2 linked regions of the Homo sapiens genome follow. The protein of the gene in region 1 purifies or fractionates together with the protein of each later gene. This does not show direct contact. Each region holds a gene or a part of one and is shown on either strand. Other genes may lie near its edges.

Region 1 (2,439 bases):
CTGCACATGGCTAAGTGCTCAGTAAACAACAAGTCTTATTATTAGGTATTCCCTGGGGCCATATGTTTTATTTCAGCTAAATGCTGATATTCGTAGAATCATGTAGAAGAATGTGTAGGTATAAAGGAATGTAATGGTGCCTTTTTATTTTACAGGGTTCTTGAAGCTTTTGAGATTAACAATGGCAGGAAAATCATCACTTTTTAAAGTAATTCTCCTTGGAGATGGTGGAGTTGGGAAGAGTTCACTTATGAACAGATATGTAACTAATAAGTTTGATACCCAGCTCTTCCATACAATAGGTGTGGAATTTTTAAATAAAGATTTGGAAGTGGATGGACATTTTGTTACCATGCAGATTTGGGACACGGCAGGTCAGGAGCGATTCCGAAGCCTGAGGACACCATTTTACAGAGGTTCTGACTGCTGCCTGCTTACTTTTAGTGTCGATGATTCACAAAGCTTCCAGAACTTAAGTAACTGGAAGAAAGAATTCATATATTATGCAGATGTGAAAGAGCCTGAGAGCTTTCCTTTTGTGATTCTGGGTAACAAGATTGACATAAGCGAACGGCAGGTGTCTACAGAAGAAGCCCAAGCTTGGTGCAGGGACAACGGCGACTATCCTTATTTTGAAACAAGTGCAAAAGATGCCACAAATGTGGCAGCAGCCTTTGAGGAAGCGGTTCGAAGAGTTCTTGCTACCGAGGATAGGTCAGATCATTTGATTCAGACAGACACAGTCAATCTTCACCGAAAGCCCAAGCCTAGCTCATCTTGCTGTTGATTGTTAGATTGTTGATGCATTCTAACCAACTCACACATATACACAAAATCAACATGGGGATGGAGAAGAGAATTAGCGTTTGCAGCAGTGTATCATCTACTAATAAAATTAAACTAATGTTGCTGCTTCATTAGTTGGTGGGAGAAGGGACACATCCACTCTTGGAGGAATATATTTACTCAATAATGGCACCTTACATTTATAAATTGTAACAGTTGTCTAATAACGTTTCTTTAATTTAAATATGTAAGTTGCAGAGCTAATAAATGAAATGACCAAGACTTTAATTATAATAAAAATAAGAAACTTGACTATTCTAGAAGTTATACTTGGATTTTTTCCTGGGAAAATGGAGAACTACTTTTTATATGTGTATGTTTTTATGCAATTAGCATTGTATTCTTGGTTCAGGGAAATACTTTCCTAAAGCAATAATGTTAGATATTAAAGATTAAAATCTAATGTATTTGCAATGCATTGTTAATTTACTTCTTCATTCTCTTCAAAATGATTTAACCATTCCTGTTTTCATTCTACATACTAGAATTACTCTCACTAGTAATTACTCATCATTTGTGTGCCATTCATGCACCCCCACCCCCATAAATCATGTTCCACAGTCTCAGGCGGAGGGTGGGCCCCCAGTGGTACAAGAGTTGCTTCATACAGTCTGTAATACATCCAGCTAAATTCAAGTTGTCTATGAATGGAAAGCCTTTCCATAGATAGAGTTCAGTTTTAAGAAAAAGGCTAACTACTGAACTTGGAGAACAGACAAATGTGCATTTGATAACTGATGTAATAATTACAATGTACTGTGTGGAAGATACAAAATTACAATTCGATTAATGGACTAAATATTTTTGTTACTTTCTTGACCCTTGGGGAAAGTTTCTTAATTGAAGTTAAAACATTCCTTTATAACACAAGACACAAGCTGACTTTATCACTCTCAGAAGAAATACTAAGAAGGATTGTACTTTGTGAGAGGGTAAACGAAGACATCTTTATTCGGCAATGTATTTACTTAGTGTCTTCTCTATTACTGAACATTTAGTGATTTGCTCTCAAGGAGATTTTTTGTTAGAAAAAGACTTGTTGCAGTGATCAGACTTGATAAAGCAAATTGTGGTCTTTTGTGGATGAAGTTCATATGCTGTGTGGTTGGTGACTATCTGATTCTATGGAGGCTAACCAAAGCCTAGACTGAGTGTGGATGAGACCCTCAACTGGGGAGTGATGGGGATATCAAAGGACATGCTGGGTGAGAGGAGCTGACTGTCATGTAGGGAGTGAACCACTGCCCCCAGCAGAGATACAGTTCGGTTTTAAGAAAAAAGGCAAGGCCAGGCGCGGTGGCTCACGCCTGCAATCCCAACACTTTTGGAGGTCAAGAGGTCGACACCATCCTTGACAACATGGTGAACCCGGTCTCTACTAAAAATACAAAAATTAGTTGGGCATCGTGCCTGTAGTCCCAGCTTCTCGGAAGGCTGACGCAGGAGAATCACTTGAACCCGGAAGGTGGAGGTTGCAGTGAGCCGAGATCACATCACTGCACTCCAGCCTGGTGACAGTGAGACTCCACCTCAAAAAAAAAAAAAAAAAAAAAAAAAGCAAACTACTGAACTGGAGAACAGACAAACCTGCAT
Region 2 (3,500 bases), about 72 Mb from region 1:
CCAGCTACTCGGGAGGCTGAGGCAGGAGAATCGCTTGAACCTAGGAGACAGAGGTTGCAGTGAGCTGAGATTGAGCCACTGCACTCCAGCCTGAGCAGCAGAGAGACTCTGTCTCAATAAAAAAAAAAGAAAAAGAGGCTTAGATTCTGATATGTACACATTTATTATTTGTGAGCTTCAGAAACAAAAATCTAGTATAATTTTAATTGAAATTTGTTTTTGTTCTTGTGATATCTTAAATGCATTATTTTTCAAGCTGGCATTAAACCTTAAGGTTTATTGGATCTTATTAAATAAAAATGCAGTTTCATATTTTATATCTTAATGTTTGTGACATTATTATGGCTATGCAGGGATCCTTGAGTCTCAAATGTGTATCTTTTTAAACAAGTGATTTTTGAAGTAACTATTTTTTATCATTATTATAGAGTTAAGAATTGGCAATATATTCTTTAAAACATGGTCTCTTTCAGTAATGTAGTGTGTTAGGAAGAGGGTAATGAAGTAACGTGCCATATTTAATCAGGATGATCAGATTAGCTTCAAAAAAGTGATGTCAATTTTGTTTTGCAGAATGCTGAACTATTAGTTTATAAAATTTTACTTGAATGGTATTGATTTACTGATAGTCTTTACTGACTTATTAGTTGCTCAGACTAATGGTTTAGATTGATTTTTGAGATTCCTTTTTCTTTGTATAGTAAAGCTAATTTTCCCATTTATTTATTATAGATGTAACATTCATTTTTAATATTTATTGAGTTATAGGCATTAAGAGTATCTTAATATAGGAAATAGTCAAATCTGTTGCATTTAACCATACGGTTAACATGCTAGATAATACTGTTTACATTATTGATTTTATCTCTCTGATATTACTTATGAGATGTTGAAAGATTAAATCAATTTCTCCCATACATGCCAGCAATAATCATCATCTTCACTTTTTGAGAAAGACATATCTCATATAAACCCAGACTTCTAGAATTACAGAAGTACCTTATAATTTGACTTTTTCAGTGTAAATGCATCACAAATATTTTTTTCTTTTTTTGATGGGGTAGGGAGGTTCACTGGACTGATTTCTTCTTATAACTACCTGGCTTTGTGTAAGACTATAGATTCTTATCCAAAACCCTCAGGGCCTGGTGTATTCTATCATTAAGATTAAAAAAATATATTTTAGAAAGTAATGAAGTACATATACTGATATGTTATATGTTAGGTTAAATTATTAGCAGGGTCTGAGGAGGAACTCTAACTAAACACATTATTTCTGCAGTGAAATATATGAATATTTATGTTAATTTGGACAAACAAAGCCAGAGTGCCTTATCAGTATGGATCAGGTTTTGCTGCTAAACATGTTTTGTAAAAACTTATGGATTGCAAAGTTTTTTGAATTTTGAATTTCAGCTAATCAATTCTGAGCCTGTAATAGATTGTGTTATGTATTATAATATTTATAGGTATGATTGTTTCTACAAATAATAAAAAATATAGCAAAATTATGTATCTTTATTGTTTTCCAATTTTTCTACTATTTCAACTTTTATCTTGTAAAATATTTTCTTTGTACAGCTGCTGTATTCTCGAGGATTACTAATTGATCTTCTAATCAAATCTAATGTTAGTCGATATGCAGAGTTTAAAAATATTACCAGGATTCTTGCATTTCGAGAAGGACGAGTGGAACAGGTACTGTGCTGATCAAGAATTGTAACTGGGCATCAGCTTAAGTTATTATGGTTTGTTTTGGAAAGATAAGCAAATAAGATTGTTATTTTCCTCATAAAGCAGTAAATTCCAGTCCTCCGTGGTGATTTACAAATGTAAATGCTTAATTAAAATTTCTAGTGCTAATTTTCTCATGGCTTACTCTGCAGCTTGGTGTTGGTACCAAGCAGCACACAAAAAACCAAAAAGCACACCAGAGTTACTATACCCAAGACTAGTCACACAAATCCTTTTCTCCCATTAATCAAGATTTTGGAGAGGGAAAAGAAAGAAACGGTGATTTTTGCTGTCCACTTGATCAGATTCCACACAGAGGAGGAGGCCCGGAGCCTGGTTGGGAAAAAATTCTTACCCTTATGACAGCTGATCAGATCCTGGGTTCTTCACTGCAGCTTCCAGAAGAGCAGAGCTTTGCTATCCTGCTCACAGCACCAAAACTGTAGGGGCCAAGGGAAACACTCCCTCTTAAGCCTCTGAAGTTTCACTGAAAAATCAACTCACAAAGGCAGATTAATTGGAGAAAAGGCATAAAAATGTACTAACATGTACATAGGGAGAACCACAGTGTTTGTTTTAGATAGCACTGCTAAATTTTTCTCTGTTAGGATGACATGCCGTTGGCCTTTTAATGGCATGGGGAGTAACTTGGCAGAATTAAGTAAGAAAGCTCACAATTAGCTCTGAAGTTAGCAGAGATGCCATTAGTACTGATGGACGGTGATGTGAAAAAGCCTGGCTAGAGTGGAAACGATAATCCTGTTATATGTAAAGGGGAAAAAAGTGTAATTTGGAATAGTTATATCATTAGGAAGCAGTTTCTTAACTTAAAATCATAATATTTTTCAGGTTCCGTGTTCCAGAGCAGATGTCTTTAATAGCAAACAACTTACTATGGTAGAAAAGCGAATGCTAATGAAATTTCTTACATTTTGTATGGAATATGAGAAATATCCTGATGAATATAAAGGTATTTTTTTCATTAAGTAGTGCTCTCCAATTATTTGACATTTCTTACTATTTTAATATGCTTGCTCTGATTTAGTGAGCCACTTATTACTGTTTTAAAATGCATTCTAACTCTGCACTATCAATAGGTTAGCCATTAGTAACATTTAGCTATTTAAATTTAAATTAATTAAAGTGAAATAAAATAAAATAAATTCAGTTTCTCAGTCTTATTAGCTGTATTTCAAGGGCTCCCATAGCCCCATGTGGCTACAGTGCAGATATTTTCATTGCTGAAGTGGCATGCTAGATTTTAATTTTTATTCTTATTATTTAAATACTACTGTCAACTGGCTCTTCATAGATGATAATCTGTTTTCATGATTCCATTATTTTTTCTCATAAGTAAAAATACTATATATTTTATCATTTTCCAGGATTGCTTTTGCATAGAATCTTGAACTATTTCGTTTGAAAAAAAAAGGCTAGATGGTATATGGGGAAAAATACTGGATTCAGAAAAGGCATGGTTTCTATTCTTGGCTTTGACCTATTTCATTATGTGATCTGGGGCCAGTTACTTCATTGTCTGTTAAAAATTGAATATGCCATTTTAGTGTCAGAGCTATATACTTTAAGTCCATTGGTCTGAAAATGTTATCCAAAATTGGAATATACTATTGATAATTTATTTATAAAGTTACAATGAGAAGTGCAGCGATATTTTTTTTCCTCTGTGAAATAATGAAAGTCTAATCCTTGCTCTTAAAGCTTCAAGTCTACTAGGTACTGTCATGTTGTTATCCACAGTGGCTGTG

What was found.
Region 2: the proteins of RAB9A (region 1) and CHM purify together in Homo sapiens (affinity purification with mass spectrometry; 2 studies listed by BioGRID and IntAct, with this or other methods). This does not show direct contact.

What each region holds. Positions count from the first base shown.
Region 1 is NC_000023.11:13,708,566-13,711,004, forward strand, and holds the end of RAB9A (ras-related protein Rab-9A), read left to right. Parts: intron 1-155; 5' UTR 156-181; coding exon 182-787; 3' UTR 788-1,939; downstream 1,940-2,439. UniProt on the Homo sapiens protein: The small GTPases Rab are key regulators of intracellular membrane trafficking, from the formation of transport vesicles to their fusion with membranes.
Region 2 is NC_000023.11:85,957,059-85,960,558, reverse strand, and holds part of CHM (rab proteins geranylgeranyltransferase component A 1), read left to right. Parts: intron 1-1,581; coding exon 1,582-1,698; intron 1,699-2,583; coding exon 2,584-2,704; intron 2,705-3,500. UniProt on the Homo sapiens protein: Substrate-binding subunit of the Rab geranylgeranyltransferase (GGTase) complex.